Homo sapiens: one gene and its partners. The protein of the gene in region 3 interacts with the protein of the main gene of each other region in a biochemical or structural test. Each region holds a gene or a part of one and is shown on either strand. Other genes may lie near its edges.

Evidence for each region.
Region 1: the proteins of USP17L2 (region 3) and SUDS3 form a complex in vitro, tested with the Homo sapiens proteins (one study listed by BioGRID).
Region 2: the proteins of USP17L2 (region 3) and CDK6 form a complex in vitro, tested with the Homo sapiens proteins (3 studies listed by BioGRID, with this or other methods).
Region 4: the proteins of USP17L2 (region 3) and KMT5A form a complex in vitro, tested with the Homo sapiens proteins (one study listed by BioGRID).

What each region holds. Positions count from the first base shown.
Region 1 is NC_000012.12:118,379,550-118,386,573, forward strand, and holds part of SUDS3 (sin3 histone deacetylase corepressor complex component SDS3), read left to right. Parts: intron 1-612; coding exon 613-682; intron 683-1,420; exon of another isoform or gene 1,421-2,139; coding exon of another isoform or gene 2,140-2,285; intron 2,286-2,310; exon of another isoform or gene 2,311-3,835; intron 3,836-4,462; coding exon 4,463-4,518; intron 4,519-6,564; coding exon 6,565-6,636; intron 6,637-7,024.
Region 2 is NC_000007.14:92,833,555-92,840,612, forward strand, and holds the start of CDK6 (cyclin-dependent kinase 6), read right to left. Parts: upstream 3,020-7,058; 5' UTR 2,924-3,019; intron 406-2,923; exon of another isoform or gene 249-405; intron 137-248; 5' UTR 1-136. UniProt on the Homo sapiens protein: Serine/threonine-protein kinase involved in the control of the cell cycle and differentiation; promotes G1/S transition. Phosphorylates pRB/RB1 and NPM1.
Region 3 is NC_000008.11:12,135,914-12,143,501, forward strand, and holds USP17L2 (ubiquitin carboxyl-terminal hydrolase 17), read right to left. Parts: upstream 2,937-7,588; 5' UTR 2,848-2,936; coding exon 1,255-2,847; 3' UTR 522-1,254; downstream 1-521. UniProt on the Homo sapiens protein: Deubiquitinating enzyme that removes conjugated ubiquitin from specific proteins to regulate different cellular processes.
Region 4 is NC_000012.12:123,394,128-123,401,151, forward strand, and holds part of KMT5A (N-lysine methyltransferase KMT5A), read left to right. Parts: intron 1-919; coding exon 920-1,139; intron 1,140-2,217; coding exon 2,218-2,305; intron 2,306-7,024. UniProt on the Homo sapiens protein: Protein-lysine N-methyltransferase that monomethylates both histones and non-histone proteins. Specifically monomethylates 'Lys-20' of histone H4 (H4K20me1).

The DNA of each region.
Region 1 (7,024 bases), on a different chromosome or scaffold from region 3:
CACTCCCCCACGGATACTGAGGGACAACCGTGTATCCTGATGTAAAATGTGCGAAGGGTTCCAACTGGGTATGTATCAGAAGAGAATGTACATACTAGTTTTTTTCTGGAGCAGCGAGTAAGGCTTGACTGCCTGCAGTGTCCAGTCTTACGCCTGCATCTCCTTTCTTGAGTTGCCAGCATTGTTGTTTCTGCAGAAGTAGCAGCCTTCACCATAACTGCCTGTGCCTGAGACACCCTATTCTGTGGCTGCATTTCAGGTAAAGGCAAGCTTTTTGCATAAATCTGACTGTAAGTTGGAAATGGCCTTTTCTTTTCTGAAGTACGGCTGTCCCTCGGTATCTATGGGGGACTGGTTCCAGGACTTCATGGATACTACAACCTGAGGATACTCAAATTCTTTGCATTGGCCTTTTGTGTCCACAGGTTTCGTGTTTGCAGATAGGGATGGCCTACTAACTGTATGTAATGTTTTTCATTGATGGCTTTGTGCAAGCCTGCCTTGAATAGAAATTGATTTTACGGGAGTTTATTGAGTGCATACTCTGTGTCAGGTGACGCCAACTCCGTGAATTATGATTTTAACTAGCCCCTATTTCCTAACTTTATTCAGACACTGAGGATGCTAGTGAAACTGACCTGGCAAAGCATGATGAAGAAGACTATGTAGAAATGAAGGAACAGTGAGTATGATATGCCTATGTCTTTTTGGAACATAGAATTGACAACATCTTTATATAGATTGAGCATCCCAAATCTGAAATCTCAGATGCTCCAAAATCTAAAACTTCCTGAGTGCCAGCATGATGCTCAAAGGAAATGCTCATTGCACTATTTCAGATTTCAGATTTTTGGATGTGGGATGCTCAGCTGGTAAGTATATTGCAAATAATCTAAAATTTGAAAAAATCCAAAACACTTCTGATCCCAAGCATTTCAGATAAGGGATACTTAATCTGTAGTAACCTTGTGTGTATGAGTTTGACCATAGCGCTTCCAAAGACCATGTATGTTTACAATTTCTCCACTTTAAATTAATTACATTTAATCAGTCTTCCCGTTATAAGACTTTGTTGAGTACTCTCTAGAAAGAATCTTGAGGGCAATGGACCCAGGGGAGGGAATGAGGCCGTACAACAGGAGAGGACCTTTTACTACTTACTCTTTTTTTTCCTTGAGACAGAGCCTTGCTCTTTCGTCCAGACTGGAGTGCAGTGGCAGGATCTCCTCACTGCAACCACCGCCTTCCGGATTCAAATGATTCTCCTGCCTCAGCCTCCTGAGTAGCTGGGATTACAGGTGCACGCCACCACGCTCAGCTAATTTTTGTATTTTTAGTAGAGACAGGGTTTCACCATGTTGGCCAGGCTGGTCTCGAACTCCTGAGCTCGTGATCCGCCCACCTTGGCCTTCCAAAGTGCTGGGATTACAGGCGCGAGCCACTGCGCCCGGACCTTTTTTTTTCTTTTCTTTTTTAATGGGCAAACCAATGCACAGAGAGGGTAATTGTTGTCTTGAAGCAATTGGGTTCTCAGGTGAGTGTAAACTCACTGCACTAATGTGCTAGACAAGGTGCCGGAGGCCTGGAGAGCTCAGAGAAGCCACGATTGAAAAGCAGGCTGCTGACTCTTATTTATTTATTTATTTATTTTTATTTGTTTAATTTTTTTTTTTGAGATGGAGTCTTGCTCGGTTGCCCAGGCTGGAGTGCAGTGGTGCAATCTTGGCTCACCACAACCTCCACCTCCCAGGTTCAAGTGATTCTCCTGCCTCAGCCTCCCAAGTAGCTGGGATTATAGACATGCACCACCATGCCCGGCTAATTTTTGTATTTATTTATTTTTTTTGTGTGGAGATGGAGTGTCGCTTTGTTGCCCAGGCTGGAGTGCAGTGGCCTGATCTCGGCTCACTGCAACCTCTGCCTCCTGGGCTCAAGCAATTCTCCTGCCTCAGCCTCCCGAGTAGCAAGGACTACAGGCACATGCCACCATGCCCGGCTAATAATTTTCGTATTTTTAATAGAGACGGGGTTTCTCCATGTTGGCCAGGCTGGTGTCAAAACTCTTGACCTCAGGTGATCCACCTGCTTTGGTCTCCCAAAGTGCTGGGATTACAGGCGTGAGCGACCCTGCCTGGCCACATGCTGACTCTCAGGCCAGTGCTCTGTCCACGTTTGCACCTGCTCTCACCCAAACCTTCTCATTGTCTTCAGACAGAGCCACAGCCGAACAGATTCAGAGAAACGAAAACCTCACTCACTTTTAGCGTACACCCAGATGGAAAACGGTATAAAGTATATTTAATGTATATTTGTTGAATGTGTTAGGTTTTTAAAGTTCTTTACCTTTTAACAGGATGATCCACATTCATTTCCCTTTAGGTCCTTTTTGCAAATGTTTTGTGGCCATCCTCTGGATTCTCACATTGTTTTTGTGCTTTGGAACTCAAAGGGGTAATTCAGCTAGGTCTAACCAGTGCTGAATAAAGATGGATTACTTTTTTTTTTTTTGAAACAGAGTCTCACTCTGTCACCCAGGCTGGAGTGCAATGGCATGATCTCGTCTCACTGCAACCTCCACCTCCTGAGTTCGAGTGATTGTCATGGCTAAGCCTCCTGAGTAGCTGGGACTACAGGCATGCGCCACTACGCCTGGCTGATTTTTTTGTTGTTGTATTTTTAGTAGAGACGGGGTTTCACCATGTTGGCCAGGCTGGTCTTGAACTCCTGACCTCAGATGATCTGCTTGCTTCAGCCTCCCATCGTGTTGAGATTACAGGCCTGAGCCATCGTGCCAGGCCACTTTTTTTTGAGACAGTAGCCACTTTTTTTTGAGACAGTATCTTGTTTTGTTGCCTGGGCTGGAGTGCAGTGGCATGATAGCAGCTCACTGCAGTCTCAACCTCTGGGGCTCAATCCATTGATCCTCCCACCTCAGCCTTCCAAGTAGCTGGGACAACAGGCACGTGCCACCACGCCCAGCTGATTTTTAAAATTTTTAGTAGAAACTAGGTCTCACTGTGTTGCCCAGGCTGGTCTTGAATGCCTGAGCTCAAGCATTCCTCCTGTTTCGGCCTCCTGGAGTGCTAGGATTACAAGAATAAGCCAATGTGCCCAGCCTTTTTTTTTTTTTTTTTAAGAGACAGGGTCTTGCTCTGTCGCCCAGGCTGGAGTGCAGTGGCATGATCTCGGCTCACTGCAACCTCCAGCCCCTGGGTTCAAGCTATTCTTCTGCCTCAGCCTCACGAGTAGCTGGGATTACAGGCGCCCACCACCACGTCTGGCTAATTTTTTTTTTTTAAGTAGAGACAGGGTTTCACCATGTTGGCCAGGTTGGTCTCGAACTCCTGACCTCAAGTGATCCACCCGCCTCGGCCTCCTAAAGTGCTGGGATTACAGGCGTGAGCCACCTTGCCTGGCCTCCCTTAGTATTTGATGATACAGAAAAAATTTCGGTTAAAATGGAATGCCTTGTGTAATTCAAGGGGAAATCTAAAGTGCATCAGAATTTGCCCTGAAAGAGTGAGATGTGTGTGAGTCTCAAATTCTGCCTACTCTCCTCCCCTTACAGAGGGTTGGGTTGTATTTGCAGCCCTTATTTGAGCGCTAAAAAGGTTATCACGCCCATGTGCTCACTTCAGCAGCACATATACCAAAAGGTTATTGTGCTTGTTATATGTTGGACAGTGTTCTTTCAGATCACAAATCTTGTTTTTATCACTGTTAAATTGAGGGTGTTTTTCAGGTAGAAGCAAAAATACTTGCTGAAATGTGATTTATATGTGGAACCCACCTTCAAACCAACTTGCTGAAGTTATGACTGCCTATAATCCATTAGGTGTGAGAGGAAAAAACTAACATGCCAAATGCTTTTGCTTCGTGTGTGCTGTGTATTCCCATCCAGCTGGGGCTGCCAGTAAATGCTGCCTTTTAACTTTTCTTTCTGAATTACTATTATTTCTCTGATCCTAAAAGAGTAGTGCTTTAAAAAATGACATGAAGGTTTATTGACTTAGTTCTTACACTGCTAAGCATATCTGCATAGAAAAACATGCTGAAGGCATAATCTTACTCTCCTGTAACTTACAATCTAATTGTAGAGTTGATGTAAGAGTTGTGTTTAATGCCATTTCTACATTGTGTGTGTGCTTGCCTGTTTATAATTGTCATTTATTAAAATCTGCTATCGTTGCAAGTTTTAGACGGATTCTGTAAAGATGGGATAACATGGGAGAATCTACAAAATTAGAATAAGATTGAGGAACACAGGGTTCTTTCTTGTTCCTTTCTGATCCCTGTGGCTGCTGGTGCATTTTAAGCCAGCAAGCAGACTTTACTTTCCTCTCTTCCCTGAAGGACATTAATGACCTTCCCATAACAGCCCAGCTAATTTCTGTGAGTAGGTTATTTTGGAATTGAGTATTGAATGTTTTTATCTGTTAGTGTGACTTTTTTTTTTTTATAGGATGTATCAGGACAAACTGGCTTCTCTCAAGAGGCAGTTGCAACAACTGCAAGAAGGTTGGTGTGTGATTGAATCCTGCATTTCTAAATATGCTTCTTAATATTACAAACCCTTGAAATCTGTGTATTTCACTTCTCTGTGGGAGTTATTTAAAACACGGTCTGGCTGATCTTAGCTATCCAGTACATTTTGCTATCTTTTGCTGTCAGTAAAGTGGTGATTTTCCAGCTCCTTGATTTTGAAACATTTATTTCCAGTATGTGTGAGATTCTTTCTTCAAATGAAATCTCACTTGGGACTTTCAATGGAGCACGAATTGAACGCCACTGTGCCTAAAGCTAGAGATTTTTAGGAGAGACATTGTTATCAAAGAATAAAGTTTTTACTGTTTTTTCTAAACCAAATGTTAATGACCTTGTGGATTATTCACACTGTGTTTTCTCCTTTTTGCTTGTTACATTAAAAGTAGATTGTATTTTGTCAAATGCTGCTAGCTGCTAAAGGCAGTGCAGCATCAGAGTTAAGAGTGCAGGCTGTGAGGCCAGGCGCGGTGGCTCACACCTGTAATCCCAGCACTTTGCGAGGCCGAGGCGGGTGGATCACGAGGTCAGGAGATCGAGACAATCTTGGCTAACATGGTGAAACCCCGTCTCTACTGAAAAATGCAAAAAATTAGCTGGGCGTTGTAGTGGGCACCTGTAGTCCCAGCTACTCTGGAGGCTGAGGCAGGAGAATAGCGTGAACCTGGAGGCGGAACTTGCAGTGAGCCAAGATCGTGCCACTGCACTCCAGCATGGGCGACAAAGCGAGACTCAGTCTCAAAAAAAAAAAAAAGAGTGCAGGCTCTGGAGTTTTGTGAGGGATTGGAATCCCAGTTTCCCTGCTTCTAGTAATGTGACCTTGGACATGCCAGTTTCTCTTGTTTAATCTGTTTTCTGATCTGCAAAATGAAGCAAGTAAGAGTAGATGTGATTATGCATGAGGAGCGTCTAGCACAGCAGTGTGCACACTGCAAGGTCCTGGGGACAGTTAGCTGTGGCAGTGAGCTCTTCGGTTTCATATTGTGGAGTCCCCTTGTCAGTGAAACTGTTTTTGCTTTTCTTTTTTTTTTTTTCGAGGCTGAGTTCCGCTTTTGTCACCCAGGTGGAGGGCAGTGGCGCGATCTCAGCTCACTGCAACCTTCACCTCCTGGGTTCAAGCGATTCTCCTGCGTCAGCCTCCCGAGTAGCTGGGATTACAGACGCCTGCCACCAGGCCCGGCTAATTTTTGTATTTTTAATAGAAACGGGGTTTCACCACATTGGCCAGGCTGGTCTTGAACTCCTGAACTCAGGTGATCCGCCCACCTCAGCCTCTCAAAGTGCTGGGATCACAGGCATGAGCCACCATGCCCAGCCTGATACTGCTGTTTCTACTATGTGCTTTTATTGCTGGTGAGTGATCCACGCCCTTGGACTAGCCCATGGTCAGGCATTATAATCAGGAAACACTTCCCCCCACAAGATGGGCCCCTCATAATTAACTGTTTTGTGGGAAGAGCAATGAAATGAATAGCGATTTGGTTAGAATCTATACCTGAATTGTTTAATGCTGTCACTAGCCACATGTGGCTGTTTAAATTTAATTAATAATTTAGTTCTTCGGTTCCACTAGCTACATTTCAAGTGCTAAAATAGCCACAAATGGTTAGTGCCTGCCATGTTGGACATTGCAAATATAAAACACACCATTGCAGAAGGTTCTACTGGAGAGCGTTGACCTAGACCTTACTGAAGGAGAATGAACCTTTTCCAGTAAAGGAAGGCCCGTTGATTCAGACTGTTGCAGCAACTGATCAGAATAGTGTGGAGATATTGGCAATTTTCCACTCCCCCTCACTCACTACAGACCCTTGATCCACTGGGTTGGGTAGACTTTGAATGGGCCCCTAGTGGTTTCTGCTGTGTGCCTTGGTTAAGAACCAGAGTTAACTTTGCTGAGGTGTGTCTTCCTTTGGTGTTACTGAAACAGTCAGTGTTGATGCTAGATAATAATTTTAGGAAGCAAAATGTAGAGCAGATTTATATTCACAATAATTTTATTTTTCAAATGTTCAAAATCAGGTACATTACAGGAATATCAGAAGAGAATGAAAAAACTAGATCAGCAGTACAAAGAGAGGATACGGAATGCAGGTAAGGCTCCTTTAAATGGCAATGAATCATCTTTCAATGTTTGACCATTTGCCGATCGTCGGTGTAATGCAGCCCTAAGAGCTATTCTCCAAAACATATCCCAGATACTCTGTCAGGGAGAGTTTTCAGAAAAGAGACTTCCAAGCTGCAGTTATGGAAAGTGGTTTCATCTTCTGCTTCTGTTGCTAAGGAATGGCCCAGAAGTGGAGGGTGTCTGAGGAGGCTCCTTGGAGTTAGGTTGTTCTCCCTGGTACCCCAAGAGTAGTCTTGCACCCTCTTGCTCATTTCTGCATGGCTGGCCTGATGTACAGTCAGAAGTGCGGATGAGGAAAAGGATTGTAGGTTGTTTTTGTCCCATTTTAAGTTTTTTTTTTTGGTATTTTGTGCT
Region 2 (7,058 bases), on a different chromosome or scaffold from region 3:
CCTGCAGAGTCGCCGCCGCCGCCGCCGCCGGAGGAGCGAGCCGATCCCTCCTCTTCCCTCCTCGAAGCGAAGTCCTCAACACAGACACGATTACATAGCCTCTGCCCAAGCGCGTCTCAGTCCAGAATCATTGCACCTAAAGGAGGAGACGGGAGGATAAGAAGAAAGTGCAATCAGACAGCCCAGAAGCCTTCCTCGGGGTTCCTCCAGACTCCCCTCCTCCTCCTTTACGAAGCCTCCATCGCTACCCTCCGCGCGCTCCTGCCCTCTCCCAAGCCGCTTAATCCTTCCTGGTTCCTCCGAGAAAAGCGAAGTTACTTTTCTTTCCCTGCAGGGCTGAAGCCGTCTTCGCGCGGAGAGGTTGCAGGGGCCCCTCGGGGATGAGCGAGCGGCGCGGGACGCAGTGGAACGGGAGGGGGCGTGCCGAGCAGCCCAGAGTGTGCCGGGAGCGCGGGGGAGGGGAGGCGCCGGGCACGTCAATGTCACGGCTTAATATTTATCCCTATATCATTGTGTTGCGCCGCTACCCTCCCCGCCTCCTGAGGCCCGGACGTGCAGGGAGACGGGGTCCAGGGGTGCCGGAGGGCGTTCAGGGGTCGCGCACAAGCTGGAGCGGAAGGACTGTGGGTCCATCCGTGTGGGGCCGCAGAATGTGGGTGGGGGCTCCCAGGACCCTGTAACCCGATGCTGGGAGTGTGCGAGAAGGGGTGGTCAGACATCTGCTCAGAAATTGCTTCCTTTCTTTCTACTTTCAGTTTTTCTACGAGGAGACATTTAAAAACGACTCGCATACACAAATGGTCTTTTTGGGGTAAAGGAGTCTCGGTTGGAAACGGAATTCTCTCTCCGGCTGGGAGGACCTCCCTGGTGGAAACCTTGGGAAGACCAGCCATCTGGTCGGGGAGGGTTGGGGCTTATCGGGGGTGGGCGAGCGAGCGGTCCTGGGGGAGGGGAGACACCGTCCCCCACGGGATCCCAAGGGTGGGAGAAAGGGGTGTTCGCCACAATTTCGCTTGTCGTCTCCTTAAAGAATAACTTCAGGAAGGGGATAGCATAATCGCGCCTCGTCCTTAAGTTTTAAACTGATTTCGACCTGAGCAAAACTCAACCTCCCTTTCAAAGGGTGGGGGGTGGGGGGTTAAATCCTGCGCCTCCAGGGGTGAGAGAGAAGGTCTCTGTCCTCGGGGCCCGGACTCGCGAACCTTTTCCCATTCCCAGGACCTCCCCGCTGTAGGTAGCAGAGGTGGCTGCCCCATTCCCCCTCCGGCTAAAGGCCCGGTCCAGTCTGCAGCCGGACGCCCCCGGAGCCCTCTGCACAACAAAGCGCCAGAGTAGGGTACCCTAACTTTCCCTCCCCATTCAGCAGCTATCTGGGACCTAGGGGGCCTCCCTCCTCCAGGGCCGCCGCGGCCTCGGCAGGACTTTCACCACGACGGCCGCATGTCCGGAATTCCCGGGGCACCTCGGAATTACCTGCCTCGCAACCGCTGGCCCGCTCGCCTTTTGCCAGGAATTAAACAAACGGCGCGACCCCCACGATGAGCGGGTGGAGCGGACCGCGGCGAGAGCAGAGCTTCTGGCACTCACTACATTCAGAACTTTCCTTAAAAGCCGAGGAAAGAGCCCCCAGGGACTGCCCGGGGGTCTGAGCCAGGTCGAGGGCCACACAGGTAGCCGGGGAGCCGCCGCCGGCCGCCCAACCCGCCTGTCCTGCATCCCCCCAACCCCCTCCCGCTCGAGTCTAGCCCCGGGCTCCGCAGCGAAGGAAGCGTCGGGGACGTCCCACCCCCGCAGGGAACTGCGCCTGCTGCCCCCGCCGGGCCCCGCACTGCCCTGGCTCTCCCCCCACTCGCCCCCCAGACGGTCGGCTTCGGCGGAGAGAAACGGGAGCAGCAATGCCTTTTCCCCCCCTCTCCTCCACTTTTTTTTGTTGTTGTTGTTGCTTTCCCACGCTGGCTGAATGTGACTTGACCCCATTTCAAAAAAAGTTTGACATAGTGCTTCAACATTTCCGCATTCCTCCGCGACTACAAAGGCTGCAGCCGCCTCCTTCTGCTTTCTGTCTCTGCTCTCTGTCTTCACACTCAATGAAATCCTTCATGCGCCTCTCCCGAAGCCTGCCAAGCACCACAAGGGTCGCCACCAGCACAGCGACAAGAGGCCACACCGGGGACCGCGACTCCCGCGTGTGCGCACACGCAGATGCGCCCATATGCACACGGACGGGCGCGCTGCGGGGACCAGGGCTGCTCACTGCGGGGCGTGTGTTTAACTCCAATATTTTAAATTATAAAAGTAAACTTGGAAACTACAGCAAACGTGCGTCTTCGCGGGGCTCCAAGCCTGGGCACTGGCCGGCTGCGTGCACTTTTCTGTGTATAACACGCCCGCAGGAAGCCTGCGTTAACATTTATCTCGTGGAGGGGAAGGTGGAGCCCACACCCACACCTCAGCGAGCTGGAGAGGGAGTTTTCGAGGGGGAAATGCAAGCACATTCTCCAGCATGGAGTCCCTAGAGGCAGTGCATTTTAAACCCTAAATGTGAATTATTATGTGAGTGTCCGAGTAGAGTTCCAGTTCCGTTTGGAGAAACTGTATGAGGCGTGTTCCGTGTGGGTGTGTGTGCGTACGGATACGTGGAAGCAGGATCTCGGTGTCGCGGGTGTCCCTAGGCTGGGATCTCCCCCTCTCATCAGATAAGGAGAATCCTCTAGCTCCCCAAAACTGGCCCCCATAACCAATCCCGTCTCAGTTCGTAAGGGGTTAACCAAAGCCGATTCCAAGGAAACACAGGTCCCCCCCACCCCCCGCCACCCTCCACTTACCCCACCCACAGTTCTGCCTCGGACCCCGGCCAATCCCCCAGATCTCCCCCGGGACCCCCCACCCCGCAGCCCACCCACCCGAGCGCACAGCTCCTCACCTGAGGGGCCCAGTCGCGTCGGGCCTCCCGAGGGGGCTGCGAGTGTCAGTCGGCTCTCCGCACGTGTCCGCGGCCTCGCGGAGCAGGTAATCAGACTCTGGGGAAGGAGTTACCAGCACTCTCTCCGGCGAGGGGGTGGGCACAGCGGCGGAGGGCGGAGGGACGGCGGAGGGCGCCGCCCGCGCCGCTCGCTGGGGGCGGACGGGGGCCGCTGGGCTCCGGCCGGCGCTGGGGGCCCCAGCCGGGGAGGCAGCTGGGGCGACCGTGCGGGGTGGGGGCAGGGACCCGCGAAGCCAACTCTGCCGGAGACCCACCCCCCGGCGGGGCTGGGGGCTCGTGGCGCAGTGGCAAGAAAGTGTGCAAATTAAAGCCTTCCGGAGAGAAATGAGGCGGCCGAGTCCCGGCAGTGCTCCGAGCTCCGGGCTCCCTAGCTCCCTTCTACGAGTCGGGGGCTAGAAGGGCGCGGTGGGGGTGGGGGTGGGGGGGAGAGTTAAATGAAAATTTCCGGCTTTCGCTGAAACTGTAGTAGGGGGATCCTGCGACTAAAATAAGCGGCATTAGTGGGAGAGAGTGGGACGTGTCGTCGGGAGTCGGCGGAGTTTCCAAACCCAGGGTCGCCCAGAGTTGGGGTTTTGACAGGGTGAAGCGGGGGGCATCCTCACTGTGTGACGTGGACGGATGGGAAAAACACAAAACAACCAACAATAATTATGAGCGGCCAATGGGGGTGGTAAATACCAATACTTTCCAAGAAACTGAAAAATCAGACCAAAAAATAACTCTTCTCTTAAAAAAATAAAGAAAAAGTTTGGCAGGATGCCTTGCAGAAAAGAAAATACTAATCTATCCAAGCACTTTTCACTTTCAGCATGAGCTACATTTGTTTTGTTTTCCTTCGCTTCCTTTCTGCCTCACAAAGCCCTATCTTTTCCTTTTAGACAGAGGATATGGTTTGGAAATTGTCAGGCACTCTTATGGTTAACGATCTACTTGAAGGGGCTGGCGGGCTCACAATTATTAAGTGGTTAGTAACTGCTGAGGGTTCACTAACGTATTTCAGAGGAGCTAAAAAGACTAAAATTTAGTGTAAATAATAGAACTGCAGATAGTAGATACATACACAAAAAGAGGAGTGCTCAGTTTAAATGCATTATTGGAAATCTGAAATTTGAAACCTTGTAAGAATGTATACTTTACCTGCTGAGAAACCCTTGAATACAATTATTTCAGGTGAAAATTAGATTTTGGAGAAAAAAAAGTCTTTAAAACTTTCTACAATGGAGTAAAAGAAAACTTGAAATAGCTGTCTTTTTGGAAAGAATTTGGTGTTCTCCCCAAAATCTCTATCTGTAGAATACTTGAAACCCTTTAAAACATCTTAAAGCAAAACTTTTCACAAAATTATTTACTTAAGTGCTTTGTAGAAAAATTAAAACCTGGCAAAATTCTGTTTGAATTGGAAATACTACTTCTATAAATCTTTTGACTTTAAAACCATGTTACTAATCTCACAGTAAATCAAATTTTTGCCTTTATAAAACTGATTCTATGTTATAGTGTGAGGTAAGGCTAGGGAAATAAAAATTGATGCATTTTCAGTAGCACATATTTTGCAATGCATTATAATACTTTTTTCTTTAAAAATAAAAGTGAATAATTGTATGTCTTTAAGCTTAAGATAATTCATAAAATACATTTGTGTTAAGAGCATGTCTTCTAAAATAAGATCCAGTTTTCTGAACAAAATTTGTATTTATAAAGCTATCTATAATCTCATATACCTTATAAATTTAAGAAGGCAAATCATTAGATTTTATATTTACATAAAAATATTGGATCACTACAAGTCACTAATTAGACTTTAAGCCAGAGACACAAGTGGGAATCCTCCATTTTGATAATTGTTCACACTTATCATTTGCCTTTTAAAACAAGATTTACTTGCTGGTAATTAACATGTTTATATAATCCAGAAATAATTGCCAGCAAATAGGAAGCAGCACATCATGGCTAGAATTTATTTGAATAAATCATTTATTAAAAAAATAGTAAGCTACAAATATTAAATTAACAGAGAAGTGTCTTTTCTACACTGGGTTGAATTTTTAGTTACTGAATTTGACAACAACCATTGCTAGATCAGAAATTCCATGATTTAGGTTACTAGATCATTTGGACAATGTAAAAAACAATGAAACTTTATTTAATTATATATGTTAGTACTGAGTGTTAACTCTCTGTCCTCTTCTTTTCCTGATACTGCTATCTTTTATGTTAATTTATCATTGTTCACTCTTCCTGCTTATGGTTCACATTAAGTCCCAGTTGGTGAAAGCTTCAGACCCAAGGCAGTTTTACAATTGATTGTATAAAATTAGTAAATACCAGATTATTTTTGTTTATGGATAACTTCTGCTGTGGGTAACAGGTTATCATAAGAAAATATGTTCAAACTTTTTAAACTGTGAACCAAATTCCAACTTCTTTGTTTAGGAGTCTTCTGAGAATTAATATATAGAACTCAAGAATAATGACTCCAACCAGTATTTTCACACTACATACCAGATATTCTAAAGTTGCAAATCATCTTACAGGTATTTAAAAATTACATTTCATGGACTTATTTCCAAATATGGTGGTGTAACTTACACTGAAAGACTTCTTAATGTCACACAAGGAATGTATTTCATGTGTGAACATTTATATATCAAATACCTGTACAATTTTGTTTTCACTAAAATAAACATAAAATTTTAAATTTTGGTCTATAATTTTTAACTTGTTAAGGAAATGTGTAATTTAGTTACAAATAATAATTATATAATGTACACCTAAATCTAATTCATTTCTGATTTATATTGGCTATTTGAGTTTATAAAATATATTTTCCAGAAACTCAGAAATGAGATTTTGCTATAATGTACTACACAATTATTTTAAAATACACTTCTAGTTTAACCTTGAAACAAGTTACCCTACTTTTTAACCTGATTTATGTGTTTGTGTACATGTTATCTTTATTGAGTAATAATCATGAGAAACTATAATTTTAACAGAAATAGCATAATATAAATGCAGTACATTTTAATGCATTCTTCTTTCCCTTCTCAGACATTTCCAAGATATTTTCTTGGGTTTTCCCCTGAACTATATTACCGAAAGTTTGCTAAATAGCTTAGGAAAAGTCAATTGTATTATCAACTTTTTGCATTGTAAAATTCTGAGCTTTAAATGATTTTTAAAGTTCAGTCTTCTAAATAAATTCTTTCTGTCAATTTGGAAATGACCTGGGTTTTTCTGTTTTTACTGTTGCATGTGATCTATTGCACTGCATTTGAGCAGTGAAACTTGAAATGATTTTGATATCTGCCATGAGGGAAAAAATAGATATAAAGTAGTAGCTTATAACATTTAAGGAGGAAAAAACAAACATTACTGTCTTTTGGAACATGCTGCTTCCATTGGTTCTACTACTCTATAATTTTCTTTGTGCAACATGTCAGTACTATGTTCATATTTGTATAATTGCCATCATCTTTTTTAATTTTTCCCTTTTGATAGACACCCATATCTTCTTTTTCCTTTGTGTGTGTGTGTGTGTGAATACCTGTATGTTCTTGGCATATTGTTATGACATGTTTGAAACATGTTCTTAAGATTCTTTCATCATCTATATTAGAATTCTGAGTAATCAGAAAAATAACTATGGAAATATACTTACAAAAGATGGTGATAATCACGTTAAAATACCTATATTTTCTTTCTATTTACAGTGACCTGTAATTTTCACTGGTTTCTAACATTTCTTTTCTGAGATAATACTTGCATCTCAGCTGCACACATGGCCTAAAAATTGTGTTACCATAGCTGGTTTTGGTTGAGCTAAAAGGTGTTTACATGCTTTAGATAGACCATTCAGTTGCAGCAGTGGAGGTATAACACAGTGGGAGTGAACGATGATAAAGTGGGATCTCAGAGGTAGGAGGAGGGACAAAGAAGGCACCCGGGGAGAAACTTCTATGAATGGCCTGGCATCAGGGACAAGTGAAGGAAGCACATGCTGAGGTCGTGGGGCTGAGAGATGCAGCCTCAGTGCTTATAGGTATGGCGTAGCCAGGCAACCCGATTCTTTCAG
Region 3 (7,588 bases):
ACGTCGGAGGGTCTTATTCCTGCAGCCGGGACCTGGGCATCGGTGTGCTTTCATGTTCCTAACTGATTTTGAGGGGAGCCCAATCGATAACCTGTCTGCGAGTCATGCTCATCACACTGTAGTTTTCACACACGTCACACGGAGACCCTGTTCGTATGCACATTTGGGTGCTTGAGCAGGGTTGCGCCCAAGATTCTGTGGTTCTACGGAGCCCTGAGTGGTGCCCTGGGCAGCTTTCCTCTGGGGTTGGTCAACTTTGATCACTGCACCTAACGAGAAAGGGACCATGAAATCTAATCAGCAAATACAGACAAGCAAGGGGCCATTTCCCACAATCATTTCCACGGAAACACCACGTCGGATACGTAAGTCTGATTGCAGGACAGGGACTGTGCTTCAGAGATGCAGCTTTCGCAGCTGGACGAATGACCCGGAATCTCCCCAAATGCCATTTGTAAGCACACCAAATGAGGTTTATTTCAGGGCTTTCTGAATTTATTTCAGTTGAATACACACACTCCTGTGTTTGATTTCCTTTATTATCAATACGACTTATTTCCAAATGACTGACATGCCAGTGGGAAAATTTTCCATTTCGACTCATTGGAATTGGACATCGTGAAACAGGCAAGTCGGTCTGTCTGTTTCCGGCGTTATGTGGGTTCCAGCAAGAGCACAAGTCCCAGGGCGCCTGAGGTCCATTCAGAAACCAATGTAAAAACGGTGAGCCAGGGTAAGAAAGAAGAGCACCGTTCCTATCTTCTAAATGCATTCCAGTTTCCACTATTCAAGGTGGCGAGAATGATCCATGGATGTGCCACATGAGCAAAATTTCACCTTCTCGTGCCGCCCAACAACTGACGAATGAAACACACCCCAAGAGAAAATAGGAAACCGAGTCCCCTGCAATAACCTCACACTCAAACCTACACGTCAGTAGGTCATATTCAGAAATACACAGTGAATGTCATCTACCATGAACACAAACACACAGACAGTCTCTCCAGAGGTTCGGAAGACTCACGACCCCAAAACTTGATGTTTCCCATGTGTGGGCTCATCCTGAGATGCAGCCATCACTATCCAGTTGTCCCTGTTGTAGAGACAGAAACTTGGACTCCTCATTACTTTATGTAGGATTGACGGTGTTCGTGTTTGTGTGTGTGTGTGTGTTTGCGTGCGCGCTTGTGGGTGTATTTGTGCGTGTGTGTGTGTGCGTTCACCCCTACGTGTGGGTCGGCACTTCCACTGAGATCACTGGCACACAAGCAGAGCCCTCTTGCTGTGTTTGTTCTTCCCTTTGGATCTCCTGGTCCTCCCTTGCAGAGAAGCGAGGGTGCCAGTGTTCACGGACTCCTGATCTGTCCGGGTCGTCGAAGAGAGGTTTAGCAGGGAGCTTTGCTGTTCAGGATGATGGTTTTTCATCCCACACTTGTATTTCGATTGATGAATCACAAGTACGTTGGGAGGCAGGGTACCTTCGACTTTTCTGACGTTGAACTCAGGCTTCGTTTTGTTTTGCTCTTGGGGGAATTTCCAGTGGTCTAAGGTGCTTTCCTGAGTGGCTCTTTCCACCAAGCGCTCGTCCAACTCGGGTGCCTGGAGGCAGGGGTGGTCTCTCTTGAGCTCTCCTTGCGTTGCTCGCCTGTCTGTGTCTTCAGCGCCGAGGGCTCTTGGTTCCCTGCCTCTTGACACACTCTCACTGTGTCTTTCCCATTCACTCTTCTGGATGTAAAAGAGGACATAGGCCTGTTGACTCAGGACAGAAGTGATGCTACAGGCAGTGACCTTGGCATCATCCATTTTATACCACTGGCCTTCTTGAGCTTTGACATAAGAGAAGTAATGTCCGTCGTGACAACTCCACCCAGCGTGGACCAGCACAGCATAGAGGACATAGACAAGAGGTCCTGTGTTCTGCTGAGACATGTATGGCTGCATGTCAAGGCACTCAGGATATTGCACATTCTTGGCAAGTTTGTTGCCTGTGACATCGGAGAATCTCTTCAAGACAAGGATGAGGACCTTGGCAGAAGTGTGTAAAGTTAACGTCTTGGAGGCCGGCGCCCTCTGGAGACAAAGACCGCAATGATAGGCATTCTCTCCATTGAGTTCTTCGGGCTTCACCAACTGTTCCAAAGCTTGCTTGACACTCTGAGCTGCCTGGATATCCAGGGCGATGTCCAGGTAAGGGTCAAAAGTGTCTGAAATCCCGTGGCAGTGGAGACACTTGATTTGAGATCTCCAGCAGCCTCCAAATATTTGGTGGATGAGGGTGGTGTCCTTAGAGTGATGATCTACCTGCTTGTGGCCGGGAAGGCATGCCTTTTTCATGGCATCCACAGTGAACATGAGAAATTCATGGGCATCTTCCTGCTTGCCTCTATGGAAGCCAGCAGCCAATGCCTGTGAGGGCTGGATGACATGACCAGGACTGTGGAGGGCCCATGTGATGTGAGCTTGCATAGTACAGAGCATGCAGCACTTGGGACGCTGACATGTTTGAGAGTGCTCCCGGGACAGCATGTAGTTGGCAAGGGGCGGTGTGTATGTCAGGCACTGCAGGGAAGCGTTCTCGTAGCAGGTATTTCCCATATTCTGGAGCCCAGCCCCCACCGCAGCAGGTCTCCTGCTACTCAGAGGAAGCTTCTTCCTGGGAGCAAGCTGTCTTGCCACAGGAGCCAAATCATCACAGAGGTCGACACGGGCCTCAGATGAGAGTGGTGACTTCTCAGGGAGAGAAGTCCGCTGGATTTCAGCAAAAGCTGCATCTGGCCGAGAAGATGTGAGTTTTGAAAAGTGGTTGAACTGCCACTCACCTCCCAAGTAGAGTGAGTCGTCCTCCATGTCGCCCGCAACAAGGATCACAAGGTTTTTCTGCTGGGACTGCAGGTTGCAGCAAGACGCTATCTCTTCCAAGAGAGTCTTCAAATGACGAGCTCTCTGGCCGCATCAGCCCTTATATAACTCACCCCCACCAACCGCGAACACCCCACCCACCCATCAGGTGTGCGATAAACCAATCAAATATCAGCACTCAATTAAGGAATGAGTCACAGGGTGTGTCCCCTTGCATCGCTGGGAATTCAACAGACACAGCCCACATCATGACTTCTAGAACACCTGAATCAAATTACTCCTCAGGGTGATAGGCACATATAATATGAGTGTAACCGGGTTGGGACAGTGGCCACACAGTTGCCTTATTTTAGGTAAAAGAATGTCAGGGAAGAAATCTTTACCTATGAAACCGTGTGTGTATCTCTCTGTGTGTGTGTGTGTGTGTGTGTGTTTGTGTGTGTGTGTGTGTGCTTGTGCTGGGATGAACTTCCAAGTATGTACTTTTGGCAGCTACCGTCATCCTCTCATCGACGGAAGGACAAGAAGTCTGAAGTGCGCTTTCTGACCTGAGAATAGTCAATGAAGTATAGTATTTAGCACAGCGTATTTTCTTCCTTAATAATAAAGGAGATATCCGTGGCATCAAACAGACCTTCCAGGGATAACCTTTCCACGTTCAGCCTATTGACTCTCTATCCGAGTGAAATTACTGGCCAGTGGAGAACAAGACAAGTCTTTGCATGAAATGCTCTTGTGGAAGCTAGGCTGCCAAATAATAAAGCATCAAATGGTAGAAACATGCACTGAAGTTTGAAGAGTTACTCAGTGCACAAAGTAGGCTGTGAAAGACTTTGGGGAAATCATGCAATCACCGAGAGACTAATTGATGACATTCCCCAAATTTATGTGTGCCAGAAAAGAGAGATGGTCCTGACATTGTATAGTGAGTGGTTTCGGACGTGCGGCGGCAGTTTAAGAAAACTTGAAACAAAAAACTTGAGAAATCCAAAGGTATCCCAACTATAAGCTTTTGTTTATTAAAGAACTGATGAAAATAAAAACAACGTATCTCACAGCATGGGTGATACTATTTCCATACTTACGTGATAATGGATCAACATTTCATAGAGATGAAATAAAAAGTTCTAATTTTGACAAAAGCAAACAAGGAAAATTATACCGTAGAAAAGCCCGGGTGACGGGAGTGAGGCCCTGTCTGAAGAAGAAAACATCGGAGACGTTTAAAAGCAGTGAGTGAAACAGAGGGTAGCATAACCTTTTTAATACTGGCTCTTGTTTCACTGGGAAATGGCAAAAATAAACCGTGTATCTCCTGGATTCTCGCATCGGTTGTTCATGCTCTGAGATGTTCCCTCCATTTCCAGTTATGCATTGTATGGTGGAATTGCAGTTAGCACCTTTGATGCAAAAATTGTAATGCTGACGAAAGTGGACATGTTCCCTGAACTAAGAGGGACAGCATTTGGGTGTGTCTTCAGGCTCTCTGGCTTACCAGGAATGAAGATCCTGGCTCTAGGGATTTTCCCAAAATGTCTTAGACAGTAAGGAACAGGGCAGAATTGAGGCCCGGCGCCAAGGCCTCTGGGTGTAAAGAAACAGCCCTGGCTTCATGGCCCATGAAATTAGGATGATTTTAAGGATGGTGATGAAATGAGTGGGCTGTGACCTTTGGCCCTGTTTCTTTCCTTTGTCTTTTCATGGGCCAGGTGTGCTTCATCAGAAGGCTTCCTATGCCCGATGTAAAGTGTCCTGGGGGAAGAAAGGAGCACTGCTTAGAAAGATGCTCCACAGGGAGAAAGGAGCCGCCATTTTCAGAAGAATGTTCCCCAGAAACATGAGCAATCCAGATGCCGTGGCTTCACACAGGGTGTTGGATGGTCTTATCTCTTTAAGCGGGACCTAGGAATTGTTGTCCTTTAATGCTCATAACTGCTTTTGAGGTGAGCCGAATTGATGTCCTGCCTGCGTGTCATGCTCATTGCACTTTAATTCACACACATGTCACACACAAACACTCTGAATAAGCACATTTTTGTTCTTGAGCAATATTTCACCCAAGATTCTGTGGTTCTACCGAGCCCTGAGTTCTGTCCTGGACATCTCAACTCTTTGGTAGGTCAACTTTGATCTTTGTACCTAATGATAAATGGACTATGAAATCTTATCAGCAAATATACAAAAGTAAGGGGCCATTCTCCACAATCGTTTCTCTCTGGTAGGTCATCTTTGATAACTGTACCTAACAAGAAATGAATATGTGATGATTCCTAATCAAAAAATTTCTTGATTTTTTGCCATTTTAATTAATTCTGTTAATGTTTAAATAGAGTTTTAAACCCGAGATTTGGCATGAAGTCTAATCGTCAAATACACAAAAGGAAGGGTCCATTCTTCAAAATCTTTTCCACTGAAAGACCACCTCTGATATACAAGTCTCGTTGCATTACAGGGATCCTGCTTCCAAGATGCAGCTTTCACAGCTTGATGATTGACCCAGAATCTCCTCTAATGCCATTTTTTTACACCCAAAATGAGATTTATTTCAGGGCTTCCGGATTTTATTTTAGCTGAATACATCCACTCTTCTGTTTCCATTTCTTTCAAACTCTTTTAAATAATTATCTTGCTGCATCAGCCCTTATATAACTACTGTCCACCCACCGAGACCATTACATTTATCCATCAATTACCCTATTTACTAATAATATATCAGGATTCAATTAAGTTTTTTGTCTTAGGTTGTATCCTCTTGCATTCCTCAGAGAATTTAATGGACACTGCTTACACTGTGACTATGGAAGAGTTGAAGCAGATTTACTTGTCAGTATTATGAGCAAATATGTTAGGTGTGGAACCGGGCTAGGATAGTAGCTAAACATTTGCCTTATTTCATATATAACAATGCTATTTAACAATTGTGTACATATTAAACAGTTTGTGTGTATGAGAGAAATATTCATGGCATTTTTAATCCAAGGGTTTCTTGTATATGACATCATTTTTAAAAAAGTCAAAATCAGAAAAGCTTCACAAATTGGAAGATATCTAAGCTAAAACCTTTTGTTTCTTAAAGGAACGATGAAGATAATTGCAATGTAACACACGGCATGTGTGATAATGTTTTAATACATATCTAAAAATGCCTTAAAATTCAATAGAAGTAAAATAACAACTTCTAAAACTTGACAAAAGGAAACAACAAAAATTACACACTGGAAAAGCCTGGCTGACTGGAGTGAAATCCTGTCTCAAGAAGGAACAGACAAACACACAAACAAGCAAAGGATTCTAAAAGCAGGGAATCAAACAGATACTTGTACACCATTCTTCCTACTAGCAATCTTCATAGTAGGAAAAGGCAAAAACAACCCAAATGTGTGGTGAATTACTTCATCAGTTTTTTAGGATCTGCAATACTGCCTCAATTTTCAGTTACTCATTGTGGGGAGAACCTGCAGTTACCACATTTGTTCCAAAATTTTATGGTGATGAAGGTAAACCTGTCCGGCATTCTCAGAGGGACAGAATTCTGGTGTTTCTCCAGGTTCCTTGGCTTATCAGGAATGAAGATCCAAGCTGTATAGACGTTTTTCAAAAGTATGTACGTACGTATGTATGTATGTATGCATGTATGTACGTATGTACGTATTTCCTCTTTTTAAATTTAAAAAATACAGGATACATGTGCAGAACGAGCAGGCTTGTTATATAGGTATCCTCTGCTATGGTGGTTCGTTGCACCTATTGACTTATCCTGTAAGTTTCCTTCCCTCACCCCCAGCCCCCAACGGGCTGTGTTGTGTGTTGTTCCTCTCACTGTGTCCTTGTTTCCTCAGTGTTCAACTTTCACTTATTAGTGAGAACATGCGGTATTTGTTTTTTTTGTTGTTGTTGTTCCTGTGTTAGTTTGCTCAGTATGATGGCTTCACCTTCATCCATGTGCCTGCAAAAGACATGATCTCATTCCTTTTTATGACTGCATAGTATTTTTTGGTGTATACGTACCACATTTTCTTTATCCATTCTAGCACTGAAGGGCATTTGGGTTGGTTTCATGTCTTTCCTATTGTATATAGTGCTGCAATAAACATACGTGTGCATGTGTCTTTATAGTGGAATGATTTATATTCCTTTGGGTACATAGCCAGTAATGCGATTGCTGGGTCAAATGGTATTTCTGGTTCTAGATCCTTGAGGAATCGCCATACTGTCTTCCACAATGGTTGAACTAATTTACAGTTTCACCAACAGTGTAAAAACCTTCCTCTTTCTTCTCAGCCTCACCAGCATCTATTGTTTCTTAATTTTTTAATAATCGCCATTCTGACGGGTGTGAGATGGTATCTCACTGTAATTTTGATTTTCATTTCTCTGATGATCAGTGTTGTTGAGCTTTTTAAAAATATATTTGTTGGTTGCATAAATGTCTTCTTTTGATAAGTTTCTGTTCATATCTTTTGCTCACTTTTGATGGGGTTGTTTGTTTTTTTGCTTGTAAATATGTTTAAGTTCCTTGTCAACTTTGGTTATTAGACCTTTGTCAGATGGGCAGATTGCAACAATTTTCTCCCATTCTGTAGGTTGCTTTTTCATGCTGATGATAGTTTCTTTGCTGTGCAGAAGGTCTTTAGTTTAATTAGATCCAATTTGTCAATTTTGGCTTTTGTTGCAATTGCTTTTGGCATTTTTGTCATGAAGTCTTTGCCCATGCCTATGTCCTGAATGG
Region 4 (7,024 bases), on a different chromosome or scaffold from region 3:
GAGTCTCACTCTTTCGCCCAGGTTGGAGTGCAATGGCATGATCTTAGCTCACTGCAACCTCCGCCTCCCAGGTTCAAGCAGTTCTCCTGCCTCAGCCTCCTGAGTAGCTGGGATTACAAGTGTCCGCCAGTACACTTGGCTAATTTTTGTATTTTTAGTAGAGATGGGGTTTACCATGTTGGCCAGGCTGGTCTTGAACTCCCGACCTCAGGTGATCCGCCAGCCTCGGCTTCCCAAAGTGCTGGGATTACAGGCAGGAGCCACTGTGTCCAGCCTATTTACTTAGTTATTTAAAAGTAAAACATTTTTTAAAAAGGTAAGCAGTTTTCCAACACTGTCACTCCACAAGTGTTTTAAGTGACAGATCATTGCAGTGTGTCTCCCGATACCCAGGCCAGTCTGCTGGGGCACCATGCTGAGAACTGCTGTGAACCTGGGGCTTCAACCCCACTAGAAGGGGACCTTCTTTTTCTTCGGAGTCTGAAATGAAGGGTGCCAGGCAGCTCTTGGGGAAGAGTTTCTGCTTTGTCACCTTACTCCTGTCCCCTAATGCTGTCCCAGCCTTCAGGAATGGAGCTTTTGATCTGAGTCTGCAACCTGATTCCTGAAAGCTATTGATCAAGCACCCTGCCAGCGTCTCCGTCTCTGGTGCCTCTCCCTCACAGGCTCTCTATCTCCCACGTCAAGATGCAAAAGCCTAAAACCTCTGCCCAGTGTCTTGGTCAAAAAATCGAGCTGGAGCTAGGCACTCCCCCTGTCATAGCCCATAGCGGACACGGGGCTTAACAGGCCAAGGGCACTCCTGCCTGACAAACCCAGGATCCTGTCTTCTCAAAGCTTGTCTTAGAATGCAGCTGGTCGTCTGGAAATTGAGAGACAGTACAGAATAAACCCGTCTTTCCCCCACCTCCGCCTGCAGAGAAAAGAAATGCTGGGAACGCAGTACGGAGCGCCATGAAGTCCGAGGAACAGAAGATCAAAGACGCCAGGAAAGGTCCCCTGGTACCTTTTCCAAACCAAAAATCTGAAGCAGCAGAACCTCCAAAAACTCCACCCTCATCTTGTGATTCCACCAATGCAGCCATCGCCAAGCAAGCCCTGAAAAAGCCCATCAAGGGCAAACAGGCCCCCCGAAAAAAGTAAGTGCCCCATTCAGTCCTCTTCCTAACGTGGAGCAGTTTGGTTCCTCTGATGCCAGGGAAGCCTGCTCAGGTGCCCATGGGGGTTCAGTGGCCACCTCTCAGCCTCTCTCATGTCAAAGACTCAGATGCCCCGAGTCATCAGCAGGGATGCCACTGTTTGTCAGTTTCTGGATCTGGCATGGGTCCAGAGTTCAAGAGCCTCTCCTTCCTCCCCTCCTTACCCACCCCAGCATAAGCAGCCTTTGTTTTTTAAATTTATTTTTTTTGTTTGTCTTTTTTGGTGATTGGTGTTTTGTGTTTTTTTTTTTTTTTTTTTGAGACAGAGTCTCTTGTTGCCCAGGCTGGAGTGCAATAGTGCGATCTCGGCTCACTGCAAACACCACCTCCTGGGTTCAAGCGATTCCCCTGCCTCAGCCTCCTGAGTAACTGGGATTACAGGTGCATGCCACCATGTCCCGCTTATTTTTGTATTTTTATTAGAGACAGGGTTTCACCATGTTGGTCAGGCTGGTCTCAAACTCCTGACCTCGTGATCTGCCTGCCTCAGCCTCCCAAAGTCCTGGGATTACAGGCGTGAACCACCATGCCCGACTGTTGTGTTTTTTGAGACAGGGTCTTATTCTGTCATCCAGGCTGGAGTGCAGTAGCTCACTGCAGCCTCAACCTCTCAGGACCAAGTGATCCTCCTACTTCAGCCTCCCGAGTAGTTGGGACCATAGGTGTGCACCACCATGCCTGGCTAATTTCTTTCCTTTTTTTAGAGACGGGGTTTTGCTGTGTTGCCTGAGTTGGTCTTGAACTCCTGGGCTCAAGTGATCCTCCCGCCTCAGCCTCCCAGAGTGTTGGCATTACAGGCATGAGGCACTGCGCCCAGCCAGCAGCCCGTCTTTGAAACTCCTCTGAGGCCCTCATGGGCAGGTGACTGAGTGACCTGCAGGCTCCAGTGGACAAAGGTGTTTAAGTGACATCATCTCCAAGGAGCTGTGTGCCTCCTCGGTGTGTGCCTTCTAAGGAGCTGTGTGCCTCCAGGTTTTCAGTCCTGATATTTATTTTCTCCTCTTCCCCTCTTACCCAGAGCTCAAGGAAAAACGCAACAGAATCGCAAACTTACGGATTTCTACCCTGTCCGAAGGAGCTCCAGGAAGAGCAAAGCCGAGCTGCAGGTAGTCACGTGCTTTAAATTCCAGTTTGTGGAGGGGCAGGGTGGCCCACCAAGCAGTGCTTGGCGTGTGCGTATGTGTGTGTCCTCAGCCTTGTTTTCGTCATCTTGGAGCAAGTCTCTTGGCCCCTCTGGACTTGGTTTTCTCCTGGATCTATCGGGGATCCTCACAAAGCTTGTCCTGCCTTTCTGCTGGGGTCACTGCAGGGCTTGGTTAAGACACTTGTGTGAAGGAACCTTGTGACTTGTAGCATGTGGCAGGGAAAGCCAGGTGTGACTCTGAAGGTGGATTTTCCAGGACTTGTTGGCAGAGCCATTGGGAGCCTGGGACTGTGGGAAAGGCTGCCTGTTCTTTCAGAGGCTTTTCTTGTCTGTTTTCTGGAAGTTTCCATGTTGTGGCCCAGGGTGTTAAACAGCAGTGGCTTGGGGCCACTTGCTGGTTGCGTAGCCTTGGGCCAGTCACTTACCCTGTCCATGCCTTGGCTCTCCAGTCTGTAAAATGGTACAATAATGTAGTACCTGCTAGAGCTGTGGTGAGCATTCAATAAATGTGGTCATGCAAGAGGAACCCTTAGAACCATGCTTGGCACTCAGTAAGTGCCAGCTAACTGTTACTATCGCCACCTCTGCTTCCTCAGTGTTGTCACTCCCGTCTGCTCTTTCCCACGCTGCTGCCATACTAGGAGCCTGCAGACCAGTGAGCAGCACCGGCTGGAAGGCCAGCTGGCCTATGCGGGCCTCCGCTGCCATGTTTGCAGAGGGTTGAGCTATGCGGCAGGCAGTCAATATTTGCTGCAGTGAGGTGTGGTTATTGCCTTTCTGTGAAGGAAACGCAGGGCATGGCAGGTCCCTCTGCTCTTCCCCCTCAGGGACACCTGGGGCTGCCCCTCTGCTCTCCCTCACCCCCACAGTGACCACCGGGTTGGGAGAGGTGCTCAGGATTGCATCCTACACAGAGAGGTGGGGACCCCGGCTTTGGCAGTTTCAGCATTTCAGCCCTCATGCGGACTCCTTCAGCGTTCTTGATGTTAAATGCGCAGATACACAGTGGTCTAGTATTCTTTCTCTTTTTCTTTTAATTGATGAAGCTTCATTTAAAAAAAATTTTTAAAAAGGTCCATTTTCTTCCCCACAGAGAGCAGCTTTGGTTTTATTGCCTGAAAAAGGCAATGTCTTTCAGCCAAGAATGAGCTGTTTAAAACATTTGTCAGCAGTGGGAGGCTGTGCTAGGTCACTTTTTTTTTTTTTTTTTTTTGAGATGGAGTTTTGCTCTTGTTGCCCAGGCTGGAGTGCAATGGCGTGATCTCGACTCACCGCAACCTCCATCTCTTGGGTTCAAGTGATTCTCCTGTCTCAGCCTCCTGAGTAGCTGGGACTACAGGCATTCGCCACCACGCCCAGCTAATTTTGTATTTTTTTTTTTTAGTGGAGATTGGATTTGTCCATGTTGGTCAGGCTGGTCTCGAACTCTCGACCTCGGGTGATCCGCCCACCTCAGCCTCCCAAAGTGCTGGGATTACAGACGTGAGCCACCGTGCTCGGCCTGCTAGGTCACTCTTAAAGACAGCACTGGGCCAGGTGCAGTGGCTCACACCTGTAATCCTAGCACTTTGGGAGGCCCAGGTGAGCGGATCATCTGAGGTCAGGAGTTCGAGACCAGCCTGGCCAACATGGTGAAACCTTGTCTCTACTAAAATACAAAAATTAGCCAGGCATGATGGCAGGTGCCTGTAATCCCAGCTACTTGGGAGGCTGAGATGGGAGAATCACTTGAACCCAGGAGACGGTAGTTGCAGTGAGCCGAGATCGCGCCACCGCACTCCATCTTGGGTGGCTGAGCAAGACTCCGTCTCAAAAAAAAAAAAAGACAGCACTGCAGATGGTGAGGTGGTGCCAGACCACAGAATCCCAGACACCTCCCAGCCAGGGTTGGAGCTGCGGTGTGCCCACACACAGGGCCTCTGCTGAGCGTCCACCAAGGGCTGCTGTGGACTTTAGGGTGGGGGGAGCCGAGTTGGCCTTGTTAATAAGAAGCAAGAGTTTGTGCTGGGCAGAGTGAAGGCTGCGATGGGACAGGATGCAGGTCTGCTAAATCTTGCAGCAGATGAGCAGAAGGGAAGAACACACTTGCTTCCCTAAAGCACAGTCTGCAAACACAAGAAAGCTCGCCCTGTTCCTGGACCGGGAGCCGTGCTTTGCCCCCCACTGTTTGTGTTGGCTCTGCTGAGTGCAGCCATGCAAGCTGTTGCTGGCCAGGGCAGGGAGGCCATAGCTGGCCGGGATGACGTGGCTAGAGCTGGTCAGGGTGGAATATTTTCTGACTGCACAGATAAAGCCCAAGAACGGGACAGCTGGGGCTCATCTGAAGGGTGGGGTCAGTCCTGACTTGACTGCCATGCTGGGCCCAGGCTGTGGATCCAGGAGGGTGGGGCATAATACAGCCTGTTGTTGGCCAGATGGTCTGGGGTGAAACTGCAATTCAGAGCCTCTTATATACCTCCACTGAGGCTGAAGACAGCAGCCAGGGCGGGCCTAGCGCCAGGGCGTGGGTCCTGGGCAACAGGGTGGGATCAGGGCTGCTGGATTTGGACACAAGGTGGGCCTTGGAGAGATGCCCTATCCACCAAGTGCTTCACTGCAGGGGCCCCTTGGCCGGCCAGCCTGGCTGTGGGTGGGGTGGCAGCCAGCAGCGGGGCAGGGACCATGCCTCTTGGCAATGGCTGGGCTTCCTCATGCCCAGCTCGGCCCCAGGGCCAGATGTGCAAGCAGCCTGCTGATTCCGCTTGGGAAGGTCCCCTCCTTCCTGGTCACAGGCGCTTCTCAACTGCCCTAGTTCCAACCTTGTATCCCTCCCACTCCATCTCCTTCTAGGCCCATTTGTGGGTTCCTGCCAGAAGTCCCTTTAGAAAACCCAGGGCTGGTTGTTTGCAGGCCCCAAATTCCAGGCCTTTGGGAGACTCAGCCTCCCTGGCTTTGTGCCGGGGCATCTGGCCTGGTCCCAGCTTCCCTCTGCGCATCTCCTACCTGCCGTGTTTGGTCCCAGCAGAAAAACCCCCATTCCACTACCCCGGTCTTTCCATGATCACTCCCGTTTACATGGGCCCCCGTACTTCTCAGCACTCTCTGCACACTTGCAATGAATGGGTCACACAGCAAGGTGGTTATGTGTGTGATGGTGGTGGTGTTGCTTTGAGGGCCTGCTGTGTGCACTGTTCTAGACCAGGAGATTCCACAGTAAACTAGACCAGCCCGTAGGGCTTGTTTTCCAATGGGGAGTAATTAACAACAAAAAAGACACCAGCTACTTGGGAGGCTGAGGTGGGAGGATTACTTGAGAACAGAAGTTCAGTACCAACCTGGGCAACATTGTGAGACCCCATCTTTTGTGGGTTTTTTGTTGTTTTGTTTTTTTCGAGACAGAGTCTCACACTGTCACCTAGGCTGGAGTGCAATGGCGCGATCTTGGCTCACTGCAGCCTCCACCTCCCGGGTTCAAGTGATTCTCCTGCCTCAGTCTCCTGAGTACCTGGGATTACAGGCGCCCACCACCATGCCCAGCTGATTTTGTATTTTTAGTAGAGACAGGGTTTCACTGCGTTGGCCAGGCTGGTCTCAAAATGCCTGACCTCATGATCCACTTGCCTCGGCCTCCCAAAGTGCTGGGATTACAGGCGTGAGCCACTGAGCCCGGCCGTGAGACCCCATCTTAAAAAATAATTAAAAAGGCCTCCCAAGTAGCTGGGACTACAGGCGCCTGCCACCACGCCCGGCTAATTTTTGGTGTTTTTAGTAGAGACGGGGTTTCACCGTGTTAGCCAGGATGGTCTCGATCTCCTGACCTTGTGATCCGCCCGCCTCGGCCTCCCAAAGTGCTGGGATTACAGGCGTGAGCCACCGTGCCCAGCCAAAAAGTTTTTAAAATGTTTTTATTTTGCAATTTTTTTTTTTTTGAGACAGAGTCTCACTCTGTAGCCCGCGCTGGAGTGCAGGTGTGCGATCTCGGCTCACTGCAACCTCCACCTCCCAGGTTCAAGCAATTCTCCTGCCTCAACCTCCCAAGTAGCTGGGATTATAGGCGCTTGCCACCACGCCCAGCTAATTTTTGTGTTTTTAGTAGAGACAGAGTTTCACCATGTTGGTCAGGCTGGCCTCAAACTCCTGACCTTGTGATCCGCCCACCTTGGCCTCCCAAAGTGCTAGGATTACAGATGTGAGCCACCGCGCCTGGCCAATAATTTTAATTTTATAGAAAAGTTGCAAAGATAATACAGAGAGTTCCCCAGACTCCTTACCCATCTTCTCTCACTTAAGTTACTCTGGTGAATTTGTCACAGCTAAGTAACAACCAACATTGGTATATTACTGTTGGTTGAAGTTTTTTTTTTGTTTTTTGTTTTTTGTTTTGAGACAAGGTCTCACTCTGTTGCCCAGGCTGGAGTACAGTGGCATGATTATGGCTTACTAACCTCCGCCTCCTGGCCTGAGACTCCCAAGTAGCTTGGATTACAAGTGTGCACCACTATGCCCGGCTGATTTTTGTATTTTTAGTAGAGACAGGGTTTCGTCATGTTGGCCAGGCTGGTCTCGAACTCCTGACCTCAGGTGATCCACCTGCCTTGGCCTCCCAAACTGCTGGGATTACAGGCATGAGCCACTGTACCTGACCAAGTTTTGTTGTTGTTTTTTTTAAATCTATTCCACCAATATATATCTTTCTTTTTTT